Homo sapiens: one gene and its partners. The protein of the gene in region 3 purifies or fractionates together with the protein of the main gene of each other region. This does not show direct contact. Each region holds a gene or a part of one and is shown on either strand. Other genes may lie near its edges.

The links.
Region 1: the proteins of MKX (region 3) and TBL1X purify together in Homo sapiens (affinity purification with mass spectrometry; 3 studies listed by BioGRID and IntAct, with this or other methods). This does not show direct contact.
Region 2: the proteins of MKX (region 3) and TBL1XR1 purify together in Homo sapiens (affinity purification with mass spectrometry; 3 studies listed by BioGRID and IntAct, with this or other methods). This does not show direct contact.

What each region holds. Positions count from the first base shown.
Region 1 is NC_000023.11:9,703,857-9,714,008, forward strand, and holds part of TBL1X (F-box-like/WD repeat-containing protein TBL1X), read left to right. Parts: intron 1-1,136; coding exon 1,137-1,258; intron 1,259-5,391; coding exon 5,392-5,466; intron 5,467-5,776; coding exon 5,777-5,904; intron 5,905-7,754; coding exon 7,755-7,920; intron 7,921-10,152. UniProt on the Homo sapiens protein: F-box-like protein involved in the recruitment of the ubiquitin/19S proteasome complex to nuclear receptor-regulated transcription units. Plays an essential role in transcription activation mediated by nuclear receptors.
Region 2 is NC_000003.12:177,018,363-177,028,514, reverse strand, and holds the end of TBL1XR1 (F-box-like/WD repeat-containing protein TBL1XR1), read left to right. Parts: intron 1-2,040; coding exon 2,041-2,142; intron 2,143-2,990; coding exon 2,991-3,017; 3' UTR 3,018-9,171; downstream 9,172-10,152. UniProt on the Homo sapiens protein: F-box-like protein involved in the recruitment of the ubiquitin/19S proteasome complex to nuclear receptor-regulated transcription units. Plays an essential role in transcription activation mediated by nuclear receptors.
Region 3 is NC_000010.11:27,733,712-27,743,863, reverse strand, and holds part of MKX (homeobox protein Mohawk), read left to right. Parts: intron 1-366; 5' UTR 367-448; coding exon 449-636; intron 637-2,359; coding exon 2,360-2,519; intron 2,520-8,489; coding exon 8,490-8,643; intron 8,644-9,072; coding exon 9,073-9,408; intron 9,409-10,152. UniProt on the Homo sapiens protein: May act as a morphogenetic regulator of cell adhesion.

The DNA of each region.
Region 1 (10,152 bases), on a different chromosome or scaffold from region 3:
GGACTTCAGTGCCCTTGCTGTCACCTGTGCTTCCAGTGCCTCTCAGGGCATGGTCCAGCCCTGTGGAGGCAGACGCTCTGAGGACAGAACCAGGGCCTGGCTTTTAGCGAGTGCCTTGGCCATTTTGGTACATTGGGAAGTTGTTGGATTCCCAGCTGCCATCCTAGAAAATAAATCAGAAGGTAGAGAATGAGACCCATAGCTGTAACTAAACTACAAGGGGAGGTCAGCTCCCCGTTGTTCTGTCTTTGTGACCCTGAACCACCTGGACCTGAGAAAGGCCCAAAGTCAGGGAGGGTGTCGGTCACAGGCCCTGAAGTGTGCGTTCCGTTTCATCCCAAAGGGGTTTTTATTGACCCTAATTATCCCCTAGTCAAGGGGATGCCTTAATGTGTTACAGGAGAGTTTTTTTCATATTGAGGTATCTTGAACATAGGACATGAAATCTTTCCTCTCCTTTTTTCTCCTCTTTGTCCAAAATTAAATCAAATGAGCTCACTGCAGAGATGCCGCTGGAAGCAGCAAGGTACAGAGCAGGCAGGGCGGCCCTCTCACCTGCCCTTCTTAACTGTGCCATGGGAGCGGGAGATTCTGCAGGCTGTGGGGTGCAAGAAGTGTCACGGAGCCTCTCTCCCAGGACATCTTGTCATCCCTGCCAACGTGGCAGGAGAGGGTCTTTAAGGTCTTAGAAAGAGACTGTGTTCACGCTTGAGACGTTTTTATCATGTTACTAAATGGGGCTTCTTGGCTGGGTGCAATGGCTCACGCCTATAACCCTAACACTTTGGGAGGCCGAGGCGGGTAGATAGTTTGAAGTCAGGAGTTCAAGGCCATCCTGGGCAATATAGCAAGAACTCGTCTCTGCAAAAAAAAAAAAAAATTTAAATTAGCTAGGCGTGATGGCATGCGCTATTCAGAAGGCTGAGGTGGGTGGATCCCTTGAGCCCAGGAATTCTAGGCTGCGTTGAGCCATGATCGCACCACTACACTCCAGCCTGGGTGACAGAGCAGGCCCTGTCTCTAGAATAAATAAATAAGTAAACTAAAGAGGCTTCTTGATTGTGCTGTTCATTGTTGTAAATCCATGGAGCTGTGCAACAGTGAGTAACTCCAGATGTCCTCCCTCCCTACTGCAGCCCCTGCCCTTGATGTGGACTGGCAGAACAACACGACCTTTGCCTCCTGTAGCACAGACATGTGTATCCATGTGTGCAGGCTCGGCTGTGACCGCCCAGTCAAAACCTTCCAGGGACACACAGTAAGTGAGAGCTCTTGTCACTGGTCTCGAGTTTGTGAGAATGTGATGTGGGAGCCGATTCTTGTGTGCCTAGAATTAAAAGCTACTGCAGCAGCAGACCAGCTCTAATGTGCCCCTTGGCTATTTGAGCTGTCATGGTTACCCCATGGTAACCATGGTGGTTGGATTGACTCAGTTTGGGGTTGGCAGTGAGAACAGTTCACTCAGAAATGACCTAGATGGTGGATTTGGCAACAAAGCCTTTAAGGTAGCCATGAGAAACATGTAGAGGACATCAAGGAAAGGATGCTCACAATAAATGAATAGACGGGGCACATCTGCAGTGAATAGAAAAAAAAATCATTAAAAAACAAATGGAGACTAAGTGTGGTGGCTTATGCCTATAATCCCAGCACTTTGGGAGTCTGAGGCCAGAGGATTGCTTGAGGCCAGGAGTTTGAGGCCAGCCTGAGCAACATAGCAAGACTCTGTCTCTACAAAAAATTTTAAAAAGTAGCTGCGTATGGTGATGCACACCTGTAGTCACATCCCAGGAGCTGAAGGCTGCAGTGAGTTACAGTAGCACCACTGCACTCCAGCCTAGGCAACAGAGCAAGACCTTGTCTCTTTAAAAAAAAAAAAAAAAAAAAGAAAAGAAATTGAGAACTGAGAAATATAATGTCTGAAATGAAAGTCTTAATAGGTGGGTGTATTAGGCAGTTCTCAATTCTCTCATTGCTCTAAAGAAATACCTGAGACTGGGTAATTGATAAGACAGGAGGTTTAACTGGCTCACAGTTCCTTAGGCTATACAGGAAGCATGGCAGCATCTGCTTCTGGGGAGGCTTCAGGAGGCTTCCAACCATGGCAGGAGGTGAAGCAGGAGCAGGCACCTCACATGGCCAGAGCAGGGGCAAGAGGTGGGAGGAGTGGGGGGGGTGTCACATACTTTTAAAGGACAAAAACTCACGAAGACAGCAAGCCACGAGGGATCTGCCCCCATGATCCGGACACCTCCCACGAGGCCCCACCTCTGCATCAGGGATGACAGTTCCACCTGAGATTTGGGTGGGGACACCGATCCTAAACCACATCCGTGGATTTACCAGCAGATGGGAGATTGCGGAAGTAAGGTTAGAGAGCATAGAAATTGGCCAATTTGAAGAACAGATAAAAGATCGAAAAAATGCATAAAGGCTTAATGGCTTATGGAACAATATCAGAGACCCTAAACCTATATGCGTGATGGGGAGAGAAGAAAGAATGGAACAGAAAAATCATTTGAGGCAGTAACAGCCAAGTTTTCCTAAATTTGGTGGAAAACATCAACATTTAATCCAAGAAGCTCAGCAAATTTCAAGCAGAACAAATATAAACAGAACCACACAAACAGAACAGACCATATCCACCTAGGCATATGGCCATCAAACACCAGAATCAATGACAGAGAAAATCCTAAAGGCAAGCAGAGGCTGACAAATCCATTATATACCAGGGAACAACAATGGGAACAACAGCTGACTTAGCAAATTCCTTAGTTTGGCCTCTGAGGCGCTTCCCGGTCTTTCACCAAATCTCCCTCAGATTAGCCAATTTCTATGGTCTCTAACCTTCTGCAATCTCCAGTCTGCTGGTAAACCCATTTACTAGCCTCGACCTCCTGGGCTAGTGTCCAAAAATTCCCTGTGCCTCTGTCCTCCTAAAGACACGTGCAGCCAAGCACCTTGCCCCGCGCTGAGCCCTGCCTGGAATGCTCCCTGCCTTAGACCCCCACAGCAGCTCTCGGTCCAAAACAGAATCCTCCCCAGTCTCCAGGCCCATTCACGTATCCTCTGCACGCCCTGGGGAGGATTCACGGCACCCCCTGAGCTCCTACTGCCCACATGAATGCCACAGCCCTGGCAGTAGCTGCTGGCCTGCGTGTCTGCCTCTCCCAGAAAACGCAGAGTGCATCAATGCTGGGACCATGGCATCTTGCCTTTCTCTCACCAGCACCCAGGATATCTCTGTGGTGGGGCAGGGTGGGGGTCCCTTGTTAAAGCAGGAGAGGATGGTCACAGTCCCTGGAGATTTGCCATTGTGCCACTAACTTAACTGATGTAAATTCCCTTGTCCTGATTCCCCTAATGCCCACCTCTCCCCACCCCTGGCCCAGGGGTCCCTGTCCCAAAGGAAGGCGCTTTTAGAGCACAGGCACCTATCGTCCTGTTAACATCTGTTTGGCTCCAAACTGACTCTCTTCTCCCGGTCTAAACTTATTTCTCCTCTAACCCTGGACTATCCACAAGTTTTTAATAGAGCTGTACACACTATCTGCAGTTCCCAGGTGTCCTGCCCAGGACCTTGCCACCAGCACAGGCCTTGGCCCTTTAAGTGGGTCTTAATGTGGCTGATGGCCCTGAACAAAGCTCCAGCTCAGTGGGGTTGAGTGGAGACCCATGAGCCGGCTCTGGAGGCGGCCCAGGAACCGGGGCTTGCATTGCAGAGCTAGGGATCCGCTCCCAGGAAGTTATTTGTTCCTTTGCATGGGCTTGGCTAGGGACAGCCAGTGGTGACCAGCTCTACATTCCTGGGCCCATGAGTTTTCCTCTGAACAGCTGCAGTCAGAGCCACCCTTGCTGGCCTTGCATACACATTCACACTCATAGACACCCATGCGTGTGCACACTCACAACCCTCAGCCCCCTCTCCAGTCGGCCCCCTCCACCCTCCCGGGCTCTCGCAGCAGCCTGCCCCTGGGCCGCGAAACTTCTTCCTCCTCCCTTTCCTGGGCCACGTGTGCCTCATGGAACACAGATGTGGCCTTGTCACTGTCCAGTTCACACCCTTCAAAACTCCATGTTCTTAGAAAGCAACCTGACCATACAGTTAATCCAAACCGGAGCCCTTAGGAGTATGAAATTTAGAAAATTCATTATGAGTGTGTCATTAGTTAATTGTTAGGCCGGGACAGCAGGTGTCACATGGTGGGACTGGACTGGACATATGGGGCCCTATAGTCACCCCTGAGGGAGCCCCAAGCTGGTACGCCATGTCCCCTCATTTCTCCTGGGTAGGCTGTTCCCCAGCTGAACCTTTGCCACAGGTGGTTCTTTTACACATGCCTGTCCCGGTAGTGTCCCCGTCTCCCTTGGCCCCTGGGTACATTCATTCACCTTTATCCTCCAGGGTTTAGCCTCGTGGTCCCCAGGTGTCCTGAGCCTGTGCTTTTCGCTACCTGGCTGTGCCGATCACGAGCCCCCAGCCAGGATTTTGCCTGTGTCATGTGTGTTTGTGCCACTCAGCATTTGCCTCTCACTTGTGTTGCACATGTGTGCCTGCCTGTGTGTGCATTTGGGTCGCCCATCTTCCACCTGGATCAGCCCTTACCCCGCTTGAACTCCGTAATAGGTGAGGGTTCACTTCTCATGTTTACCCCTCCCTCCGCCTCCACTCACCTGCAGGAGAGAAATACCTTCTAATGGGTGTGGACACTGGAGGAACTGTTACATTAAAAGTGCATAAGAGGCCTGGCATGGTGGCTCACGCCTGTAATCCCAGCACTTTGGGAGGTCGAGGTGGGAGGATCACTTGAGCCCAAGAGTTCAAGACCAGCTTGGGCAAAAATCCCAAAAAAAAAAAAAAAAAAAAAGGGCATGGTGGTGCCTGCCTGTAGTCCCAGCTACTTGGGAGGGTGAGGCAAGAGGATTGCTTGAGTTTAAGAGGTACATGCTGCAAGGACCTGTGATCCTGCCACTGCACTCCAGCCCGGGAGACAGAGTGAGACCCTGTCTGAAAAAGAAAAGTGCATAGGAAAGTGATTTTCAAAGGCCAATTTAAAAAGTAACTGGTTTTACTGGTTTTATTTGCTGCGTTTTATGGTATGTGATTTCTTCACTTGCCTTCCTTCCTAGCAGGGAAGGTTTTTTTCTTAATGAAGTATGGATGAGAGTGGCTGGTGTTGTGTGGTATAGGGCTGTGGTTTTATATAAATGAAAAAGGCAAAGTGAGAAAAAGAGGAAACTAGATGGCTGGTTGGGCTGTGCCCTTTGATGTCAGGCTGAAGCCGAAGACCTTCTGCAGCGCCGGTGGCGCGCTGCTGCCCCCTGCTGGAAGGTGACCTCATCTACTCACAGGCCCTGATGTCTTTTTCACACTCTTCTGCTCTCTTTCAGAACGAGGTCAACGCCATCAAATGGGATCCGTCTGGAATGTTGCTGGCATCCTGCTCGGATGACATGACATTGAAGGTAGAGTCGGCATGGCAAGGGGTGGGCTGTTTAATCCTAGACAACCCCGGGCACTTGATGCCAGTCTCACGGTCACTCTTACATGAGGATTATTTATTACTGACCACCCTCCCTTCCTCTGTCATCCGGTGAGCTACGATTTCTCAGTCATAGTCCCACTGAGAATCGCAGCCTCCCTGCAGCCTTTCTCACCACTGTGCACCCTCCACCCTGCCCTGGGCCCCGTGTGCACCCCCGGGAGGAATGATTCCACATCGTTCCCGGATGCAGGAATGGCTTTTGCTCATGTTGTGTCTGGTGTGTTCTGTAGATCTGGAGCATGAAACAGGAGGTGTGCATCCATGATCTTCAGGCTCACAATAAAGAGATCTACACCATCAAGTGGAGCCCCACTGGGCCCGCCACCAGCAACCCAAACTCCAACATCATGTTGGCAAGGTAAGGGCAGGCAACACAGCTGGCACAGCTCGGTGTTACACAAAGACAACAGGAAATTCTGCTAAAGCGCGTCCATGCACGTGTGTTGAAGCCCTTCAGAGGAAGCAAAGCGGTAGCTCACTTTGAAGGGGCCAGGATAGAATTACCGAGTAACACCTGCCTTTGAGGTAAGGATGGTTTTGAGTCAGGCACAGTGGCTTACGCCTATAATCTCAGCACCCTGGGAGGCCAAGGCAGGACGATGGCTTGAGCCCAAGAGTTCAACATCAGCCTGGGCAACATGGTGAAACCCCATCTCTACAAAAACTTAGCCAGGCGTGGTGACGTGTGCCTGTAGTCCCAGCTACTCAGGAGGCTGAGGCAGGAGGATGGCTTGAGCCCAGGAGATTGAGGCTGCAGTGCGCGGTGATCACACCACTGCACTCCAGCCTGGGTGACAGAGCAAGACCATGTCTCAAAAAAAAAAAAAAAAAAAACAGAAGAAGAAAAAAAACCACCCAACATGACTGCAGAGCCACAGTTGAGGGACAGCAAGCCAGGCAGCACCAACTCCTGTTGACGGTGCTCGAATTAAGGTCATCTCTTAGAGAGGACAGGATGGAATTCCTGCATCCACTGAGAGACGGAACCAAAAAAACAAAGAACACATAGGCCGTAATTCTCATATTTCAAGTAATTGTCATAAAATCCACTTAAAGTACTGTGATATAGTGTGATATAGTACTACACACTCGAGTTGTTTTGTGATGACTCAGAAGGTGCTTTTGCGTCGCGTGGTACTATTAGGAGCATAAATTATCCTTTTAGTCAGCAAGTATAAAAGGGGCATCCCGGTACCTAATGGGTCCCTGTTGAAAGAAAGCAAGCCAGACAATAGCTTTGTGATAGATATTACTGTTCTAAGTTTGAAAATAACTAAAATTTGCAGCTTTCAATAATGTGATTACGTATGTGGATGTGATTGTATTTTAATTCTTGTTTGATTAAAATTTATTTTCTATTTAGAGACAGGGTCTCCCTATGTTACCCAGGCTGGTCTTGAACTCCTGGCTTCAAGTGATCCTCCCACCTTGGCCTCCCAAAGTACTAGGATTACAGGCATGATCTACTGTACCTGGCCTAAAAAGTTTTTTAAATGTTTATTCACTTAATTTGCTATTTTTCCAAATATGGCTGTCTGTATTAATTTAGTTGGTAATAATAGATGTCATGTTTTAAATTGTAGGGGCATTTTAGGAAACTTGATAAATATTCTACAAAAATATTTACCATTTACGTCTATAGGAAACATAGAAACAGGGCTGGGCGCAGTGGCTTACACCTGTAATCCCAACAGTTTGGTAGGGTGAGGCAGGAGGATCTCTTGAGCCCAGAGGTTCAAGACCAGCCTGGGCAACACAGTGAAACCCCGTCTCTACAAAAAATAAAAAAATAAAAATTAGCCGGGTGTGGACCTATGGTTGCAGCTTCTCTGCTGAGGCTGAGGCGGGAGGATCACTTGAGCCCAGGAGTTCGAGGCTGCAGTGAGTCATGATCACGCCACTGCACTCCAGCCTGGGCAACACAGTAAGACCCCATCTCAAAAAAAAAAAAAAAGGTGCAGAAACAAATGTAGATATCAAATTGTTTCCCTAATAAGACCATTAAAGCTTTTTTTCTGTTTAATGACTATGGCTTTGTTTTTAATACTTGTAAGTAGTTACAGTTTAGAAGACAAAAAGCTTTTTAGTTATTATCTTTTGAAACGTAAAAGCTGGGAAAAACAACTCCTGGAGATCTGATACACATTATGGAGAACTGTTTGAAACCACCGTGTGTATGTGATTTTGCTTTCTCTCCCACCTTGCTAGTGCTTCGTTTGATTCTACGGTGCGACTGTGGGACATAGAACGAGGCGTCTGCACCCACACGCTCACGAAGCATCAGGAGCCTGTCTATAGCGTAGCTTTCAGCCCTGATGGGAAGTACTTGGCCAGTGGATCCTTCGACAAGTGCGTCCATATCTGGAATACTCAGGTAAGCTCCCGACCCCTACACCAAATCCTTTTAGTAAGGGATGCCCAAATAGCCACGACTCCAGTGCCCTTGGCTCAGAGCAGTGCCCCGGAGGGAGTTGAGCAAGCTCAGGCTCCCCGGGCAGACCCAGTGGATGCTGTCCACGTGCACCCCACGTGGGCTGTCAGCTCTTCCCCCACCAGACACCTCCGGCAGCTCCCCTCCCTGAGGAAGGGCGTCGTGTCCACCGTAATCATGGCTCTTGGCCATTTGATTCCAAACCCTCACCTTGGCACACGTTCTTCCTTGAAGGAGCCGCTGTCTTCTGTTCACTTTTCTGAGTCCATGGCACGAAACCTTCCACCTGCCTCTTCCTCTTCTTAGCAGTTATCACCGAAGTGCTGCTCTCTAGATACTGAGGTTAGAAGGTGGGAGTGGGGGACCAGCTAACGGGGTCAAGGCCACACCAGCTCCTGCAGCTCCCTTACGGAGCAGACCAGGGAGTGGGAAGGAATGTGCTCTTGCTGTTGTCATGCCACTTCAATTTTTCTTTTCTGTTTTGTTTTGTTGTTGTTGTTTTTTGTTTTTGTTTTTGTTTTTGAGACGGAGTCTCACTCTGTCACCCAGGCTGGAGTGCAGTGGCGCGATCTTGGCTCACTGCAACCTCTGCCTCCCAGATTCAAGCAAGTCTCCTGCCTCAGCCTCCTGAATAGCTGGAATTACAGGCACCCGCCATCATGCCCAGCTTATTTTTGTATTTTTAGTAGAGACAGGGTTTCACATGTTGGCCAGGATGGTCTTGAACTCCTGACCTCAGGTGATCCGCCCACTTTTGCCTCCCAAAGTGCTGGGATTACAGGTGTGAGCCACCGTGCCTAGCCTCAATTTTTCAAATCAAAGTAGGTTCTGTTTGAGGACATAAGGTATGTCAATATTGGGTTGTCCTTTTAGCAGGGATTGAAAGGACATAGGATTTAAATAAAGGTGGCTGCTGTGGGTATCTTGGGCCACACCTGAGGATAGAAGAATTCCAGCTGTAAAGTGTAGAAATGGATGGGAAGTAGCACTGCATAGCATAAAGGATTGTATAGGGCCATCAGCACGTGATTCTAGTCTAAGGGAAGAGAGAGGTGATAATATGCTAGGAGCTGTTGAAAATAAGGAAGGGGTCCCTTTCGCCTCAGGAGGGGAGGAATCACACAGCCTTCCCCCTGCCCCCTTTCATCTGCACTGCCTTCTTGGTTCCTTTTGGCTTGGTTGACATTCAGGTGGATTTATACCCTCAAGTTCATTCCCCCTGTGGACTCAATGGTGATGAGCCCTGTTCACTGGCAAGGGGTCCACTGAGATCACAGGCTTCCCAGGGACCTCATGTGAACCACATCCTCTCAGGGAAGGAAGGGAAATGGTGGACCCTGCGTAGAGCCAACCCGACGCCAAGCCCAGCCCCACAGCCCTAGATAGCTCTCCGGGAAGCACGCATCTCAGCACTAGTGTCCAAGAGTCTCCGTTCCTGAAATCCTCGCTAGAAATAGTAATGGGTGGATTTGTAAAAAGAACACATCAATTATCAAAACAATGACATGATCAGTTAGGTACAGCCTGTTGTCAGGAACTCACTGAACTGTTTCAACCCTTTTTTATAAATCAAAGAAATCCTTAGGACTTTTCTTTTTTTTTTTTTTTTTTGGATCGGAGTTTCACTCTCGTCACCCAGGCTGGAGTACAGTGATGCCATCTCGGCCCACTGCGACCTCTGCCTCCCGGGTTTGAGCGATTCTCCTGCCTCAGCCTCCCGAGTAGCTGGGATTACAGGTGCGCACCACCACAGCCGGCTAACTTTTGTATTTTTAGTACAAACGGGGTCTCACCATGTTGGCCAGGCTGGTGTTGAACTCCTGACCCCAGGCAATCTACCCACCTCGGCCTCCCAAAGTGCTGGGATTACAGGCATGAGCCACCGCGCCCGGCCAAGAAATCCTTAGGAATTTTCTTAAGAGAAATCTTAAAGCCCACTTTAATCTTTCTCCAAGTATAAAAATACTTATCTGTAATACTGCCGACACACACCTTTCTCAGTTCATGGAACACCACCCTTTAAGGGGCCCAATTGAGCAGAGGATTTGGGACAGCCCTCCTGGTCTCGGTGTTCAGATTTCTCCTGCCTGTCACCATAGTGAATCATGAGTGAAGGCTTATTCGACTCTTTCTCTCTTTTTTATTTTTTAAAATTAATTTTTGTAGAGACGAAGT
Region 2 (10,152 bases), on a different chromosome or scaffold from region 3:
TTTAAAAAATACATTCCTTTTATATACTAGTTGTTGCTCACATTTAGAACATTTTCAGTGAACTCATTTAGTCCATTGTGACAAAATCAATTTTAATGAAATTTGGGCATAGAACTGTAGAGTGCTAATGGAAGATACTACAAGACATTGAAGGGCATTTGACCAACTGTTCATATTATTTTGTTTTCACTATTGTGTACCAAAAGTCTTACTTTTTCAAACTTTGAAAATAGTAAAACAGTGAATTTTCAGTGCAGGAGAAAATCATTATCCTATTGTTGTATATACATCCAGGTTTTTTGTTTTCCCCTTTCTTGTATGATGAGTTGCCTAAGCATTTGATGAGTAAATTGTAGAAGTCTTGTGCCAGCATACATACAAATTTGAGGTAGATGCCGATGATCTGAGCCATTGGCCTTTTTAAATGTCTTAGCTCTGCCTTGTTGCCCATAATGTTTTGGTTCGTTATAGCCCAGTTCAAGCTTAGAGATTGGTAAGTGCTTTTTAAAAGAAAGTTGTTTTGTTTTTTTAACCCCCAAGTTGGCTGTAGATTGAATGTCTGTAGGTTGACTGTAGATTTTATTTTTTATATCTCAGCAAACTAGATTTTGTTGGTTCTACTTTTTTCTCTCCTCATTAACTATAGATACTCAAAGCCTACTATACTTGAACTTAATCTCATAAATTATGAGAAATTTTAAGTAAACAAAACAGTTGAGCCTTCCCAGCCTGATAATCAGTAGCAATGTGTCAGTACCAATGCATCTGTGATTTGTGCCACATTACTGGGCTAAATTTGAAGAGGAAAGCTCGGTCAAACATTCTTCCAGCTTGTCATCTTGGATAGGCTGAATGGGAGGTATTTTCAAGGTGCATGGTTTGTTGCCATGTGCTTTTAAGTAGATCTGCCACCTCTAGCTTGACTTTAGGTTACCATAAAGCTGCAGAGGTCACTTTTCTGATTTGTCAGGGCCGAACACCTGAAGCATATATTTCAGTTTTCATAACAGGACCTCTGATCTTTGTCCTGTTATATTGACTGGTTTCATAGGAGAATATATTTTTGGATTGAGTTTTAATTCTTCAGTAGCAGCTGAATAATAAAATAACGTTGTTACATTTATGATTCAGCTTAATGAATGATTACATTATTAGTATTCCTGCCTGTGTTTTTTGTTTAAACATATAACGTCTTTCAAGAATAGTGTACATATCTGTCTGGGCACTGTGGTGCATGCTTATAATCCCAACATTTTGGGAGGCCAGGGTGGGTGGATTGCTTGAGGCCAGGAGTTCAAGACCAGCCTGGGCAACACGGTGAGACCTTGTCTCTACAAATAATTTTTTAAAAATCAGCTGGGCATGGTGGCATGCACTTGTAATCCTAGCTACTTAGGAGGTGGAGGCGGGAGGATCACTCTAGCCCAGGAGTTAGAAGGTGCAGTGAGCTATGATTGCACAGCTGCATCCATCCTGGGTAACAACAAGACCCTGTCTAAAGAAAAAAAAGGAACATACATACATTATTTTAGCTTCTTTTATAATCCCCTAGCTTAGGAACTGGTCAGTAAATATAGAGTGAATAACAGATTTATACTGGAATTATCTTTACTAGTTTGTTATACTTCCTCTTTAAGATGTTTTGTCAAAGAAATTCTGAATTTATTTTGTTTCTCTACATGTTAGCTAGACTCATGTATCATTTAGCAACAACAAAAACTTATTTCATGTGATAGACTGACTGTTTACTTCTAGCTATTGTTGGCTATGTCAGAGAGACCAGATACCTTAGCCAAGAATGGTTATCAAGACTGGAGAAACTGAATATGTGTGTGAGTAATCTTTTGAGAACAGGCTGGTATTATCTTTTTGTAAAGGGATCATATTACATTTCTAGAATTTCAGAACTTATTTTTATAGTTGAAGCTAAGTCCCTCCTCTGATTGCTAGAAATAAAGCTATGTAATATTTTTATTTCAGCATTTGGATTTATTATAATATGTATTACGATTTTTAAGATTTTGTTTTTCATTCTTTTAGACAGGTGCTCTAGTTCACAGCTATAGGGGAACAGGTGGAATATTTGAAGTTTGCTGGAATGCAGCAGGAGACAAAGTTGGAGCCAGTGCATCAGATGGTTCAGTAAGTATAGTAAAGTGTTTCCAAAGAGGGTGTGGGTGGGTATTCACATCAGAATGCAGCTTATTGTTAGTGATACCAAAGTGTTTTTTTCAAAATAAATTTTAAGGTATGATACTGATTTTTTTTTTTCCTGAGGCTGTAAACTTTTCATGTGCGTTGGATTCAAATAATGTAAACAAAATTTAGGCTGTCCTTACCAAATACCTTATAATCTAGAAATGGACAGTTATTTTTAATATGAACCTTCATTTATGAAATTAGGTATACCAGAGGAACATTCTGAGAAGGATTGAAATGTTTAATGTGTATTTCTACCTTCTCCTCTTCACAGAAGAATTTTTTTGGCCCAGGGAAGGCAGAACTAGAGGCAGTTGGTTCCTGTGTTGAGGAATGTGTGATACTGAAAGATTTTCAGGATGAGGTTAGCCAACTCTTTACAACAATGCAAATATGGCTTCCAAAGCTGTAGAAGCACCAGAAGGTGGGAAAAGGGTAGCTATTTACTGATGCTGTAGCTGAATATAATCTGTGATATCTTTCATTAGGGTCCAATAGATAGGAAATGGTCTGTTTTGAGCATTTTCCCCCTCCTTTTTAATCAACAGAGAGTATAAAAATCCTAGCCGTGGTTCTTCCCCCACAGTTTGAGCTCATGGTTGTTCTCTTGATCTGCTTAAATGATCTGTCTGATTTCTGTCAGTTAAGTGCTCATTTCCATGATTATTATGCTTTACCAATTTTATAAACTTGGAACTAAGAAACATTTCAAATTGTACTATAGAAAAGTTAAACATAAAATGTACAATAAAATTCTGAATACACTGGTTGATTATTTTAATTTCTTACAGGTTTGTGTATTAGACCTTCGGAAATAGCGCTACTAGTTGGAAGCCATGGACCGACTATGAATGTGTACATAGCCAAAATGACTGTCCCTGACCCATGTACTGCTATAGTCCCACTTGAACCATGGCCAGTCCACTACAGCCAAATCTAAAAGAAATATATACATACAGTGTATATAAACAAAATTGCACCCTGAAGATGACAGAGTTTTGTCACAGCTTGTGAATTCTGTTCACCAAGTGCTGGAATCTAATCTGCTGTGCCCCTAAAATAGCATTTAGAAGTTTTGGATATGAAAAACAGAAGAGAGAAAAATATACATTATAAAAGCAGAACATACATGTACCAGTTTTTGGATACTAAATGACAGCCTTGTTTCTCCCCTTTGAATCAGCAGACACCATGGATTATATTCTTTTTTTCCCTTCAGTAGTGAGCAGTTTGTATGTACAGAGAAAATGGACTTACAAAAACTTGCAGCAGTAGTTTGTTCTTGCTTTAAAATTTCGTTTTTGGTTTAGATTATGGATGCATGAAGTAAGGGAGTGAATCAGTTTCTTGTTTATATTTTTTTCACCTTTTAAACAAAAAATTCTTTAAAATATTTTAATGCATTCTTTTGAAGAGGTAGATGTTTGGTACATTTTATGGCTCCCAGAGCATATATTCAGTTGGTGCATGTTGTGGAAGGGGGAATTGGAAATTAAATGAAAACCTATGACTTTGGTCATGTCAATCTGTAAGACACATCAGTAAAAGGGTATTATGCTCTGTTGGTTTTGTTTTTTTGTTTTGCTTTTTTTTTTTTTTTTTCTTTTTTGTTTTTTGGTGATGTGGCTTAAATGCAATAGTTTCTTTTTTGGGACATATTTCTGCCAATTAAAGACTAGAAGGGCACAACTTTTTTTTTAATTACCATAGAGAAGATACATTAAAAAAAATCTTCTGATGTTTTGTAGCCATAACTAAATTATGGTAAAAATGTGCACTATTGTGAAAAGGAGCAACGTAGTTTTGGGTTTTTTGTTGTTTGTTTGTTTTGCTTTGTTTTTTAAGAGATTAAAATGTTTCTGGATAAGGATTAGCTTCTCGAAGTGTCCATCATTCTGTGTAGAAGCTTAAATATGTAATGTAACCAAACTCCAGTATTAAAAATCTCTCATGTTGTTTTCTTTATACAAAGCAAGATAACGGCATATAACACTGCCATTACATGGCAAAATGTTTGCTACCTTAGTTTAAAAAACAATCTCAAACAAAAGACTTGCTTCAAGGTGTTTTTAAATAGCAGTGATTCAGAATTTTTTTTAATGAAAGTATAATTGCACTAACCTTCTTCCTGCTGCTCTGATTCTGCATTTGTGGTACTTGTGACTACGTTTTTTCAAATATAGATAGATTTAAGCTGCTAATTTTTTTTTTTTTAGTAATCACTACTATATCATGTCTTTTACTCTGTTTATAATATCAAGTATTTTCTTAAAGATATAGATATTAAACCTTGTGCTCATGCAACTTAGAGTAACATATACAGACAAATGATTGCATGAGGCCATGTTTATATGTGTGACTAATAAGGCTTGTCATGATTAACATAATCCAGGTATGTCATTTCTGAAGAGAATAGTCATCAAATTTATATCTCGAAGATTTTAATTAAGGAATTGCTTATTGTTGAGCTTAGCAAATTAATAACACTATTTCTGTCACTAATTATTTTGAGGCCTTTTAGTACTAAAATTTTAACCTGTGTTCTAAGTAGAAACTGATTTAACCCAAGTAATGCAGCTTTGATTGATTTCAGCATTCGTTGCTTTGCTATTTTTACAAAACAGCATTGATTGAAGCAAGTCTTGGTTTTACTAAGGTAGGGTAGCATTTGCTATTGGTAAAGAGAATAAATACACTTAATTTCACAATACATTGTTATATGTACCCCAGTTGTTGTTAGTGGGGACTATGATACTGTAATAATATTTTTAAAAATTTACATCAAGAGAGGCAGTCATTCACGATGGTTTTGTGCCAGCTCTTTTTAGGGTTTTGGATCACATTAGAGATATTTAGAACATATTACCCTGTGACTTACGTAGGAAACCTAATATGCTGAGTATCTGGCACTTGAATTCCTGCTTTTATTGCTGGAGGTCCACATCTGTGGTTGACCTCTGTTATTGTTTAAAAAAAATAAATAAAAATTAAAAAAATCTGTGCAATAATTTTAAAATGTGCTCCCAGGAATAGACACAAATGTTTTGAGTATCTTTTAAGCTGCATTTTCCTTTAGTGATGCATTTGTCAATTGCACTGAATTTAAATCTGAAAGTCAGAGGTGATTATTGATAGTACTTTTGTATTTTGATATGGACAGTTTATTCATTTGCATACAGTTATTGACTTTTTCCCAGCTGATTAAAAGATAGTCAAGAAATTCTGCAATATAGCTGCCAAAATAGACAGCTACATTTTTATGATATTGTCATCTTTTCTGTTTTTTTTTTCTTTTTTTTCTTTAGCTATTTTACTTAAGCATAATAGCCACAATAGGACATATAAAAGATTATAAATACAGAGCTTTATTATCCTGACGTCTTGGGTCTTTTAAGTATATACTTTTCTGAAAGGTATCCATTTTGTAGGCTTGGGTTCTTCATGAGCATACGATTGTTTATTTTTGCTGCTGTTCTCAACATCATCATTGCCTGCTGATGTGCCACGATGCTGCTCCAATAGACAGCAATAAGATTGTCTCTAATTTGAGCAGTAACATGATTGCAAGAGACCAAGTTTCACAGCTTGTAAAGTTCTGTATTTGGGATTCTTGCTTATTTTTCCGCCTGTGTTTTTCTGAGAACTTATTCCTGATGATCAATTGAATCCAGTAGTTTTTCTATGCTATTTGTTGTTGTATAAGCTACTGTAAGAAACTTATCATAAGGAAAAATAGAAAGGAAAACTTGAATCAATACTCATTGATTAAAATGGAATAAAGAAAGAGCAGCTGCCACTTTTAAACAACATAAAGGAATATCTTTTTTTGTCTCCGTGTAGGAAATCCCATAAGTTCTTATATTTGTTCCAGTTCCCATTTCCTGCCATTGACCAGATAACATCATTGACTTTCAAATGACTTTTAGAAGTGATAACTCTTAATTTCCTAATAGATACTAGATTGTATTGAATTCTGTTTTAATTATTCTCTAGGTAAGTATGTTTTAGGATTAAATACCTTTTACAGATACTGAAAGTGCCTCCTTTTGTGGTGTAAAAAACAAATTATGGTGCAAAAAGTAATCACTAGATTGAAATACATGAAGGTTTTTTGCTTTTTGACATACGAAAATGTCAAGAGAAAGGCCAAAGATTTGTACTTTTTCACTTACAAAGCACTCCTTTTTCCCTTAAACTTCTTTCTGTCAAATTAGATTTAATGAGAGAGTACTATTTTTAAGGAGCTATCTGTTTATGTAGAATGATTTTGTTAAGAGTAATGTAAACTATTATTGAGTAGAGGCCTAAAGAGGACTGTGCATTTTTGCTATTTAAAGGAATCACAAATGATCATACTTAAGTGAGCAAAAATGACAAGTTTTACTAGCTAAGTAGAGAAATAAATCTCAAATGCAGCGCTACAATTTTCATTATCTTAAGTACATTGTACATTTCTACAGAACCTGTGATTATTCTCGCATGATAAGGATGGTACTTGCATATGGTGAATTACTACTGTTGACAGTTTCCGCAGAAATCCTATTTCAGTGGACCAACATTGTGGCATGGCAGCAAATGCCAACATTTTGTGGAATAGCAGCAAATCTACAAGAGACCCTGGTTGGTTTTTCGTTTTGTTTTCTTTGTTTTTTCCCCCTTCTCCTGAATCAGCAGGGATGGAAGGAGGGTAGGGAAGTTATGAATTACTCCTTCCAGTAGTAGCTCTGAAGTGTCACATTTAATATCAGTTTTTTTTAAACATGATTCTAGTTAAATGTAGAAGAGAGAAGAAAGAGGAAGTGTTCACTTTTTTAATACACTGATTTAGAAATTTGATGTCTTATATCAGTAGTTCTGAGGTATTGATAGCTTGCTTTATTTCTGCCTTTACGTTGACAGTGTTGAAGCAGGGTGAATAACTAGGGCATATATTTTTTTTTTTTTTGTAAGCTGTTTCATGATGTTTTCTTTGGAATTTCCGGATAAGTTCAGGAAAACATTCTGCATGTTGTATCTAGTCTGATGTACTTATCCATCTCATTACAAACAAAAACACACAGACTGCATTTGTAGCTCTGTAATCCTTGAATACGGAAGTAAATTTTCTTCTTTCCTGACTTTGACATTGTAGCTATACTGTTTCCATTTTTGTTTTTACAAATCCTTTGGGTCTAATTCTGTGAGCCTACCTATAGCACTGGATTAAAATGTCTGCATCATTTCTTTAGTTATCCAGTTAACTTTAAAACTGTTGTAAAAGTGTAAACCAGCCCATGACAGGTTTTTGTACATGTTAAAGAACTTCATTGTTCAGTTTTCATGATTATTGTGTAAGGAAGACTGATGTAGATGTTCTGTGCTGTCCTGGACCATGTTAATTACACTTACGACGTATTTTAGTTCCACATCACAATGATTTGTCCCCAGTGACCCTTTTATCCTTTCTAGGCACATTTCTTGTTGTTGTTGTTGTTGCAGTTCCCCTTTGCATTGTATTGCTTTGACAACTGTAATTTGAATCAGATCTGAAAGAGGTCCAGAATAAAATATATTTTGATATTATGTTGGCTGTGTACATATATAAAACCTTTGATGTCTATGTAGTTTATATAGACTATTTACTAGTCAGGTAAAGAGAGAGGGATGGTATTTCTTGTTTACAGTTTGTTTACATTTTAATTGCTTTTACTTCTCCAGTGTTCTATTGTAGAATAAACCTTTTTTTCCAAGTTAGCCTTCATAACCTATAACACATTCATTCTCTCCCATACTGGTGTTACTGATTAATAACTGCCATCAGAACCCAAACCACTGTTTTTCATAAACGTATTGTTTCCCAAGATATATACTTTAAGCCCATAATAAAATTACAAATTTTACTATTTTTATTACTTCTTGCAGGAGATAAGATTTTTTTAAATGAAGGGGTTATTTACTATTTTTATTAAAGTATAATAGAGCATCTAATCAGCTAAGGGATTGTAATTTTTAATTCTTTTGAAAAATAAATATTGTATTTAAAAGACGTTATTTCACAGAAGCTGAAAAAGAGACCTTAGATAACATTTGTTTGGTTAGCCACACGGTTGAGCACAAAACAATGTGTAGATGTGTTGAAGATTAGGGCAGGAGGCTCAACTTCTCGGTGACCTTTTTTTGCTTCACAACAAGCCAATTATAGTTGAATCATTTTCTCTCTTAGCTAGTTGTTACTACAAACTTTATAAGAAAAACAACTAGACACCTTCTAGTTTTAATTAATACCAACTCCTTTAGAGTTAGAGACTTTTTAAAAAGAATCATTGAGCATATTTTCTTTTTTTTTTTTTTAAGAATTTACACTCTCTAGGTCTTCTATTTTTCCTGTTTATTTCCTTAAACAGAAATAAATTCAAGCATAGTTTTATGTTTTATTAGAAATAAGCCACTGCAGTTGCTAGAACTGACATGCTTTCATTTTCAAGGGGTTAACTTTTATTGCATGGCATAGATTATTAGTAATATCCTGCATTGTATACTTTTCCAAAAAGGGTTGGACTCCTAAGGATTAGAATCCTTATAAGCTTGAGGGAAAGCTGAAACTAATTTGAACAGTAATAGAAGGGATTATTTTTAATTTCATAGTTAACACTTTACAATGGATTAGATTTATTACCTAGTATAATCCGTAGCAGATCAGATCAAAGTTTACTGTTTTACCAATATATTCATTTGAAAAAATACAGTGGAGGAAAAGACACTTTAGATGGTAGTTTTATGGTGCTTTTCTCTGCTGTACCAAAGTGCTTTGTCATCAATGAAATGTTAACCCTATGCTACTTTTTCTGCATGCTTCTTAAATGTCATCTTAATGCTTAATTGTCCTAACTTGTAATATTTTTGTATTAAATTTTTTTAGGAGTTCCTTGTAATTTCTTTACAATTTAAAATATATTAAACACAAAGTGTTTAGTAAAGTACAGAAGACAATTACTAATGTTTCTTGGTTGTTGGGTTTGTATGATCCATTGGGCAGACAATTTATATTTTAAGAACTAAGACCAATGGGGTGGAATCTATACCGAAAAAGATATCACAGTCTTATTTAAAAAAAAAAAAAACAAACTTTCTGACATACTAATCTAATGTCAGAACGAGCTGCCTTAAGAGATGTTGTGCTGTCAGAAAGCCGTAAAGCATAGGTTGGATTGCCACTGGGCCGGGCTCCTGTGGAGAAAACAAGCACTGCCTGAGCACCTCAAATAGACTTGCATTAAAAAATCTAGTCACATTGAACTTCACAGTCTGAAATCAGACATTTAAAAACAGGATCAGCTTCCAGGATCTCTCACATTCAATATAGGGGATTTTGAAGAATCTACACACTGCCAAGACAAGACCTTTTCCCTAAGCTTTTATTGGTTTAATTTACGTACACTTGCTGGACCAGATCAATTATCTGATTTTCCAACCTGGGTCCATGAGGAACAGTGCTCCCCATAGAGAGGGAGGAATAGCTAAAACTCCTAGCAGAATGAAGAGCTGCCATTTGGGATGGCCTAGAGTCATCAAATAATTCAAGTTAAGTTTAATATGACATAAAAATTAGCTATGTAATATGGATTTTAATATTTCCACCTGAAATGGTTGAAATATTTTAGTGTGTGGGAATAAACTGAAGTTGGACAGATCTGGTGTTGAAGTAAATGAAGTCTGATAAGAGTCAATTAGCGGTAAGTTCATTCTACTTCTTAAACAGTGTTGGTTAACTTGGAATGTGCGTTGGAATCTTTTATGCCTTGTCCTACCCATTGACCAATATGGTAGCACAAGGTATGTGTGCTGCTTTTCATATGCTTGTTTGGTTTTGTGTCATAATGTGGGAGGTGGTTGTCACTAGCATGTGGTATATTTATTGTAGAGCACATGCTGGTTAAAGAAATTTAAATACAAGGTATAAATAATAAATGTTCA
Region 3 (10,152 bases):
CCGGTCGCGCTCCGCAGTCCGGAGTATGCCTCTCCCAGATTCAAACTGAAACCCAGAGGCTCGTTTGGGAATTCGTTTCCTTTGCCTCTGCGGGTGAATGATTCCCGGTTGTAGTTCTGGGGAGTGAAGGGATTGGGGGGATCGATCGCCCAGGCAAGGAAGAGGGCAGGTACCTGTCCGGGGAACCTGCAGGGGCGGGGGCGTGTAGCCAACTGGGGAGAGCCGCAGGGTCCCTGCCAGTTGCGGCGGCGCCGCTCCTCCCCTCGGCTCCGCAGCCCGGCGACCCGGCCAAGTTCAAGGCCCTGAACCTGCAGGGGTCTGAGCACTCTCAGCCAGTAAGTAACGAGATGCACCTTCCTCTCCTAGAAGCCGAGCCCCGCTGCGGAGCTCCCGGCGGCCCAGCCCCGAGGCTCTGCGGCCGCGCCGCGCGTCCCTACCAACCGACACCATGAACACCATCGTCTTCAACAAGCTCAGCGGTGCGGTGCTGTTTGAGGACGGAGGCGCCTCGGAGCGGGAGCGGGGTGGCCGGCCCTACAGCGGTGTCCTGGACAGTCCTCACGCCCGCCCCGAGGTGGGCATTCCCGACGGCCCGCCCCTCAAGGACAACCTCGGCCTGAGACACCGGAGGACCGGGTATGCGCACTCCCCTGGGGGCCCTGCCCGCCTGCGGCCCGGAGGGGTGGGGGTGGTGAGCTGTGACGGGGTCCCGTGGCAACGCGGGCGGGTGGACGGGAAAGGGCCCGGAGTTCCCTGGGAGTGCAGGTCTGCCCCTCCAGGGCTCGCGCATTCTCATGTTAAGGGGCTCCTATCTTAAAACATGAGGGATCAATTCGTCGGGGCAGCTCCAAAGAGCTTGGTGGAGACTAAGGGCGCCAGGAGCTGCCCCTCGGCCCTCCGCTGCCTGGACCTCGGAGTTGGGGGTTATTTGCCCCTCTCCGGACTGTGGGTGCCGGTGCGCGGCTGAGGGCGAGGAAAAAGGACTGAGCTCGGTGCAGAGAAACAGGCGAAGCCGAGCAGTCGGGGAGTCCAGGCTCAGGCTCCGCGGACTTCTCTTCGGTCACTCGAGCCCCTCGCCAGAGCCCCGCGGCTCGCCTGGCCCAAGGAGTCGGGAAGGTCGCCTCCCGCCAGGGAGTCCCGGGCGTGAGCGCGGCTCGGCTGGGCCCGCGGCGAACCCGGAGGGGGAGGCCCCGGGCCTGCGGGGCCGGGTTTGAGTTTAGCGGGGTGAGGGGTATGCTGGGGGGGGCGGTAGCTTGCGGGTGGGCCAGCTGCTCAGACTGCCGGTGAGTGGAGGGCAGGCTCTGCCTGGCCCGATCCGGCGGCTCCCCGGGCGCCCCGCCGGGGAGGGGCGGCCGTCCTAGCCGCCTCCACCTGAACGATTGCATCAGCTGCTTGTTCTGCGGCGTCGCTGCTTAGTAAAACAGAGATTCGGTTTCGTCAAAATGTTACTACCAGTCGTTTCGGGTGGAATTGCATTTCAAAGTGTTTAAAGAGGCAGAAACCCAGGAGGCTCCGGCGCAGGCGCGCAAGCCTCGGGGAGCGGCTGGGCTCGCTGGCGGCCGCGCGCGACACCTCCCGGACCCGTGAGGGAGCGCAGCGCCCCAGGCCACGCTCCAGGCTCCTGGCTGCCTCTGCCTCCTCCCCCTTTGAATGTGCTTTTCCTGAGGTCTTTTTACCTTACATGATGGGACAGAGCTTGCCGTACTTTTAACCCTCCCTTAGTCGGGAAACGGCCCGACGGTGTTTTTGGGTTCTGCAGCTTTCCTCCACAAACCACCAACTCCTTTAGAAAGTTTCCCCCTTTTCCTAAAAGATCAAAGGAAATAGCTTAAAGAGAGCCGGGGCGGCAATGCTCCTTTGCTTTATTCCCTATGTCCAGTCGGCGACCTTTCCCCTGACCACAAGCGACGGAAAGCCTCTGGGAGCAGACAAGAGATCCCCGAGGGAAGTTTCGAGAGCCAGCCGCATACCCTGCCAGGCCTGCCAGGCCAGGGCCACTCGAGGGTGCGGCGCCAGCGGGTGAGGGAAGGGTAGCAGTTAGCCCCGCTGCCCAGATACGCGACTGGAATAGCAGTATTCTTCAAATCACTTGACCTTCGTCTTCTAAACCTCTAACCTTGGGGTATTGGGTTCAAGGTATCCCCCTATTCAAGATAAACCTATCGAAATGATCTCCCCATCCAGAAACTGTGTGGCTCCCACTTCCTGCCTCTCCCAAACACTCTGGGCGCGCGCAAAGCAGGGGCGCAAGGCAGGAATGCGCAGTTTGGATGCGGGGCCCGGGCTTGGCCGGGGCGTGGAGCGTCCGGGCGGGCAAACGCGTCGCTCACCAGGGCCGCCTCCTCTCCCCATGTCCCAGCGCCCGGCAGAATGGCGGGAAGGTGAGGCACAAGCGGCAGGCCCTGCAAGACATGGCGCGACCCCTCAAGCAGTGGCTTTACAAGCACCGTGACAACCCGTACCCCACCAAGACCGAGAAGATACTCTTGGCCCTCGGCTCGCAGATGACGCTAGTGCAGGTAATCAGGACCCATTAACACCCTGATCCGTTTTCCCGCGAGGGGCTGAAGAGCGGGAACGCTTAGAGTTCGTGTGGCTCTCCACGTGGCGCTTCTACCTGGAGAGGGATGGAGCCGAGCTGTGGGAGTTTCTGAATTACCTCTCACCCTCATCCCTCAGTTCAGTGCAGATGCTCCGTGCAGGAAAGAATGCAGGATGCGCTGTCAGGTAGGGAAGTGAAAAGTAAACTGCAGACTTACGAGAAGGTTCAACATTAGTGAGCATCAGAATCGCCTGGAGAGCTTAAAACACGAATCGCTAGGCCCCACCTCCGAGTTTCGGATTCAGCAGGTCTGGGGTGAGACCATCATTTGCATCTCTTACAAGGCCCCAGGTGTTACTGAAGCAGAGGCTAGGGAGGAACCCCACTTTGAGAACCACGCAGTGTGACGCTCCATATTAAGGCCCAGTATTAAAGCTCAGGTACAGAGTAACTTTCAAAATTACCATTACTGACAGCTAGGAGTAGGGGATAGAAAGACAAGAAATGATGTTTGGATCAACAACCCCCCACACACACTTATTTATTATTATTTTTTAATAGGAAGCATCCTAAACATTAGCTGCAATCCACAGCATTTTGCTCCTGATGCTTTTCTGCTGGGCTTAAGGAGAGGAGGCAGATTTCAGATGGTTGGGTTACTTTGCCAAGTGTAGAGAAATGGTGCAAAGTTTGTGTGTTCTCTGGTGAACAACGTTACTTTACATTTGACTAGCTTTTCAAAACTGAATCTTACTGTTCACAAAACCACGATGTTGTAGGCAGTTACTATCAGAATTTTACACTTGACATAATCAAGACTTGGGGCAGTTGTGTCAGTAAAAGACAGGCCTGGAAATAAATAATTCCAGACCAAATGCTCTTCCCGTCATGTCACAATTTTTTAAAATAAATACGGTGGCTTGAACTTTTTTACATGCAAATAGGCAAATTTATTCAGAAAGAAGAGGAGGAGGGGCTACATCAGGTGAAAAGTTTTGCACATTGCGGTAGCATTACCTGATTGTGAAAATTTGGCCATTCCGCTAAATTTACAGTAAGCAGGAACTCCAAAAAGGAAAAAGGAACTAGTGGATAAAATAAAGATTGCTTTCCAGAGTATTTAAAATTTCCCTTTAGGAATTACTGGAAAGTTTGACAAGGCATGAAAGTTGACTTATTGTCAGGCTATCAATACTAGAATACGTAATTTCTGCTTATTTTCAGAATATAATTATATACAAAAACATCTGTTTTCTTTCATATTATCAGGCAATGGTATTAATAGTGATTTGCTGCAGCAGTGGAGGGGAAAATTAATTTAGTGTTCTTGGCTTAATATCTGTTTAACATAAAACTATGAATCTTTTAGCAATGTACCAAAGTAGTTTTGAAATAAATTATTCCAGTCAGAAAAACCTGACTTATGAAAATAAATAACCTATGTTAAAATTTCAGTTTAAATAAGTATGCTACTTATTTTTAAAATACACTAATTTATAGAGTTATCTGAATATTTCACAGTGATGTCAGCAATGAAACACTAGGTTATTTTGGCTGATTATAGAGCTTCATATTTAATAGAGACTATTCTTTCATACAGAAAACAAAAGAACATTGATGACATATTTTAGGACATTTTTAAATTATGAAGTAGCATTTGTCATTAGGAGAGCCATTTAAACTTTCTTATGTAGTGGTTTTTGTTGAGCTGCAATACAAGTAGTTATAATTTTAAATTATTTGCCACCTGTAATGATAGTTCAAATACAAATAAAAATGCTTTTTACATTTAGATCTTGGTAAGGCTATTACATTTTTAAAATATGCTTTACATGAAATTTTCATTCAAAACACTTTTTTTCTCTTACACTAGTGCTCAGAAAATAAAAATGCACAGAAATATGTAATTTTAAGTGGGGTAAGATAATTTTTATAATAATAAATGACAACTGTATAATGATTTCAAATTTTATTATTAATGAAGCTAGTTTCTGAAACTTTAAAGTGATAAATGGAAAAAATAAAAATGTATAGAATTACCAACGGATCTTATGGCTGATCCTATGGCTGATCATTGTTCAAATGCTATAGAAATACACTCTGTACTCTCAAAATATAAACAGCTTTATTGTGGAATAGTATAAAATGGTATGTGATTGGGGTTTGTATTATTGCAGGATATGGAACTTATCAAGGAGTAATGAGTAGATGTTAATGCTTCCTCCTCTAATAATGAAAGTCTCATATTCCTGTGATATGTCCACATACGATTTGTTAAAACTGCTATGTTCCTAGATTCTGTCTCCTCTGTTGACATAACTCTGTTTTTGCTTGGTATTGAGTGTGCCTGCTGATATATATATGCCATTATCAGCTACAAGGCTTATAGTAACGTTAAATATTCAACAAAATCTCAGATCAGTCCTTATTCATTATTCCAAGTGTTATATTACATGGTGTGGAAATGAAGTGCTCAATATTTCAGTTGAATAGCTCAGAAGTTCGTTAATTCAGTGTGTTCAAACATGGACAGATGCCAGTTTATCCCTTTGGGTGTACTATAACAATTGCTCTGTCAACATGATGAATGTAAACACCTTTGTTAAAGTAGGATGAATATTATTTAGTTTTCCCTCCCAGCTTCTAGATGTTTGGCCTTCTAATCTTTCACTATAAAATATGGGAGATAGATAGATAGATACTGATATAAATCATAATTATATAAATTAGTCATATCTAACTATCTCCCATATTTTATAGTGAAAGCTTAGAGGCCCAAACATCTATACGTATATACACATATAGCATTCAGTTTGACATTAAAATTCTGTTCCAGAACCTATCCTTGGTTAAGGAGACCTGTTTCATGTAAAATACAATTTGAAGAGAATATGAACGACAACCCGAAGGAATCCATAGTAGATTAAAAGTGGAAAATTTGAACCGATATTTTTACCTTCAGTGAAACAGATGGAATTTGCATTAATTCATCCAGAAAGAAATGCAAAACAAGTATATGCAAATTTGTTAACTAACTATTTGCTGTTTGCAGGACCTACTGCAAATACACATTAAAGACCTTGGAGTGTATCTAGCTGTTAAGTTGTACTGAAAAAACAAAAGAACAAAAAACCCCAGCAGAATATATATATTACCAGATTGGGTGGTGGTCAATTTATGAAATCAGTTTTGAAACAGTCTATAATAGACATCAGCAAACCTTTCTGGAAAATCACCTAATGTGTAACTATTATAATATGGTTAAAAAAAAGACTATGAGTATATAAAACTTAAAAGAGATATGACTCCTATACATGAAAAGTTAGTTAATCCCCTGTGACATTTAAATCATTTAAATGTTCCCCCATTTTTATCTGTTAGAAGGGTAGTGTATTACTTTTTTAAAAAATTAGAAGGCCATTGCATTTTCATTATAAGAAGAGTTTCATAAGAATTGGATTTTACACTGTACTATGTGTGGTTGCTGTGTGAAGATTTAAGGTTAGTTAAGATTTAAGGTTAGTCTGAATTATATCCCATTGAGTAAAGAAAGTTACAAAAATGTTTTGGAGTTGGATTCTAGTAAATATGAATGATCTAGGGGAAGTTGCAGGCTGTACTCTGTGTGTGAAAGGAGCAAAGAAGGACAAAAACACTCTTGCTGGAGACAGTACTGGTCAACAGAGGGAGGTTAGTACCTAGTATAAAGGAAATTAACATTGCTGTAGGGGAACTTGGGATGTATTCACCCATCTTAATTTTTAGAGCTAGCAAGGATATTAGGAACCATCAAATCCATTTTAGAGATGAAGGATTCAAAGTTCAGAAAAGTTGAATAATTTATCCAAATTCACACAGCATGTTTTTGGCAAATTCAGAACAGGAAGCCAGGCCCTCTTCCACTGTATGGTGATTATGGGATAACAGGACATTTATGAGGATTTGAAGAAGTGAAGTGACTAAATCAAAATGGTGCATCAATTCTTGAATTTGATGATACTTGCTAAGATCCATTTAAGAGAACAGAATGGAAGACAGGGAAGTTAGAAAGAGAAATGTTTTCAAATTCCCAGCTAGTAGTATGGCTGGATAAAGTAGTCGGATGAAGATTTTGGCAGTGAGTTGAAGAATCCAAGGGAGTTTGAGAAATTTCATGAAGAAAGGGATCAGGCTCCTTGTGCTTCCACAGCTAATGTTCACCAGTGTATCCCAGTTAATTATGTGTAGTTCTTTTCCGCTAGTCCTTCTGGGAGTGCAGAAGACAAAGCTTATTCATTCCTAGGACTTAACACCATGGCTAAAGTACAATAGTCACTCAATAATTTTGTTGTCTGTCTGTAGAGAATGGGAAGGACTGAGAATTTGAAGTCAGACTGAATCTTAGTAATAGTAACATAGCTTAGCAGGAAGAAGCATTGGTGAAGACTGACTTCTGAAATGCCACAGTGAGATAATATGTCATTGCATATAAATTTGAAAGGATAACTATCATTGCTTCAGGTACAAAGAAGACAATATTAACTATATTGAATATTAAATACATATGGGAAACCCACCGTGTGTTTACCCATGAGGACAGGGAGAAAAAGTATAATTTGAGATTTTTTTTTAAGTAGAATAATAAGGACTTGAGTAATGCACAAAAAATGTGTATTTATAGTATAAATCTAGAAAAAAAAAAGTAGAAATTTCCAGTGCAAACATTGCCACACAAACCATTATAGTAATCTGGCCTTTCTTCAAAGCCTAGCTTAAATTCCTCAGTTTGGTCATGTTCTGGACCAAACTGGCAGAAAGATTTAATTCTCTTCCCATGTTTCATTCTTTTAAAGGCAAGTATTGCCCTTTTGAGTTTCTAAAAATCTATGCACTGATGATAACCTGGTATTTTAGAAGAAATTTCAAGTATCAAATCCAGTAACATCTTTAAAAAAAAAAGAATGGAAGTAGCTTTTCTTTGTCTTGACATATTTCTTTCTTTGCCTTCACCTATTTGTCTAAGAAACATTTGACTTTTGGCTTAAAGTGAGGAGTTCTTTGGTTTATTTTCCCCCTCTTCACCCATGGTTCTACCTCTGTTTTGCTAACGCCTCTTTTGGAAGCGAACAGATCCCACTTTTTTCATCTCTAATGGTTTCCAAAGCTTGGCCCTTGACCCTGCTTTCACTCTCTCTACTCTTGCAACTTTGACTATTACCTCTGTGCCTTTTCCTCTTGAATTTGCTCATCCCCTCCCTTCAATCTCAGATACCACTTTTATTTTCTTACCAGACATGTCACCAGTATTAGCACCTCAAACTAGACATTGCCCAAGCCAAACACATCATTTTATCCTCAGAAAGTTTCATCTCCTTCCCCAAATGCACTACCCTTCTCTTGGTTCCACAGGTTTGATGACTCAAGGTCATCTTTAACTCTTCCCTCTTCTTCAACCCCTACAATTTCTGTGGAATTTCACTTCTATTTGTTCCTGTGTCCTCTTTATTGGGAATGCACTTCCCTTCCCTCTTGACCTGACCTATTCTGGACTTTCTTCAAAGGCTCACTTAACTTCCTCAAAAAGGCTGGAGTCATATATGAAAGTAACCCCTCTTTCCTTTGGACTCGTATCATTTTAATGTCTTGTATGCCATTCATCACATTCTTTCTTATACTAGTTATTTGTATACCCTCCTACTTCTCTTACTGGACTTTTCTCTTATTAAATTTTTTGATGTCAAGGCCTTTTCATTTTTCCTTATTCCACAAATACACTAAATGCTCAGTGTCTGTAGTAAGCAACATGTTTGTCAAATGAATGAATGGATGCGAATGTCCGGTATTCTTATGTCCTGAGAATATTTAATGATCAGAGGTGCTGAGAGAGGCTTAGCTCCTTTATGAGAAAATAATCGCACCATGGATAATGTTTTTAAGTTTTGTTAATTGAAAAATAATACTGTTTTAGGTGTCAAATTGGTTTGCTAATGCAAGACGTCGGCTTAAGAATACCGTTCGACAGCCAGATTTAAGCTGGGCTTTGAGAATAAAGTTATACAACAAGTATGTTCAAGGCAATGCTGAACGGCTTAGCGTAAGCAGTGATGACTCATGTTCTGAAGGTTTGTTAATATTTTTATTTTGCTTTCTTTGTTTTGCCTCTATTAGCAAGTTCACCATAATTGCTATTTTTAAGGTTGCTCTCACAAAATATGATGGTGCCTTAACGGTTCTTTTTTATTGCATGAAGTAACTTCATTTTTATAATACTATAAATGACCAAAGGAATGATGGCCATTTCCTCTTGTTTATAGATATACCATGTGTCAGAATAACATATTCAGTGAAATTCATTAAAATTAAAATACCATAAGCGAGAGATGACATAAATATTTGCTTTCATTGCCTAAAAATTGATCTTGACTATCAAAGATAATTTTATATACTTTAAATATATTTCCTTTATATATTTTTAAGGATTAAATATAAGAGTTGGGTGGCTGGGGGAAAGTATGCATACCACCCTACTTAGTGATACTGTTCCACTTTAGATGGAGAAAATCCTCCAAGAACCCACATGAACGAAGGGGGCTATAATACCCCAGTTCACCATCCTGTGATTAAAAGTGAGAATTCGGTCATCAAAGCGGGAGTGAGGCCAGAGTCACGGGCCAGTGAGGACTACGTGGCACCCCCCAAATACAAGAGCAGCTTGTTGAACCGTTACCTTAATGACTCTTTGAGACATGTCATGGCCACGAACACTACCATGATGGGAAAAACAAGGCAAAGAAACCACTCGGGATCTTTTAGCTCCAATGAATTTGAGGAAGAATTAGTGTCTCCATCGTCATCAGAAACTGAAGGCAACTTTGTCTATCGCACAGGTAAGTCCGTGCTTTCTGTAGTAATTCCTGCGATACCTGTTTAAAGCACAATTAAAACTGCATCAGAGGGATTTATTTTAACAGGTATAAAGACATCAGATTATTCACATATTGCCCATAATTCAGTTTTAAAGCTTTCGTTTTGTTTAGAATTGCCAATGGATACATTTGTTAGTAGATTATGGTCTTACTGAGAAATTTTCAGTTTTCATATTAAAGACAGGAAGTTTTATTCTTTTTATATTTTTTAATTTTAATTTTTTAATATTTTCATTTTGTTTTTATACAAAAATTAACTCAAGATGGAAGAATTTTCATTCTTTATAATAATTTTAATCTTCAGAATAACAATGTTTAGGGGGGTGTATACTGGCTTTTATGAATAATTTATAATAGAGGATAGTGCCGGATTGTGGCCAGTCCTGCAAATACTTTGTATTTTATCTTTTCTGTTAAATGCTTTGATTGCTAAATAGTGATGGTAAATGAAAACAAATTAATAGGGTGTCAAGCTTTTGTGAAAGAAAGGTATAGGTCTGGCTTCCATTGCTCTGGAAATTTTACTCTCATTCCTGAAAAGCATAAGCAGGGATGAAAAATAGCTTTTAAAATTTTACTTTCCTTCCAGAAATAAAGGATCGATTCCTACCTGTCCAAAACTTTCAGATGGAGTAGTAGGTTTGGTAAAAATTTCTATCTTGACTTCAGTTCCCAGAGAGGTTTGCTCTTAAGAAGTGTATGAGG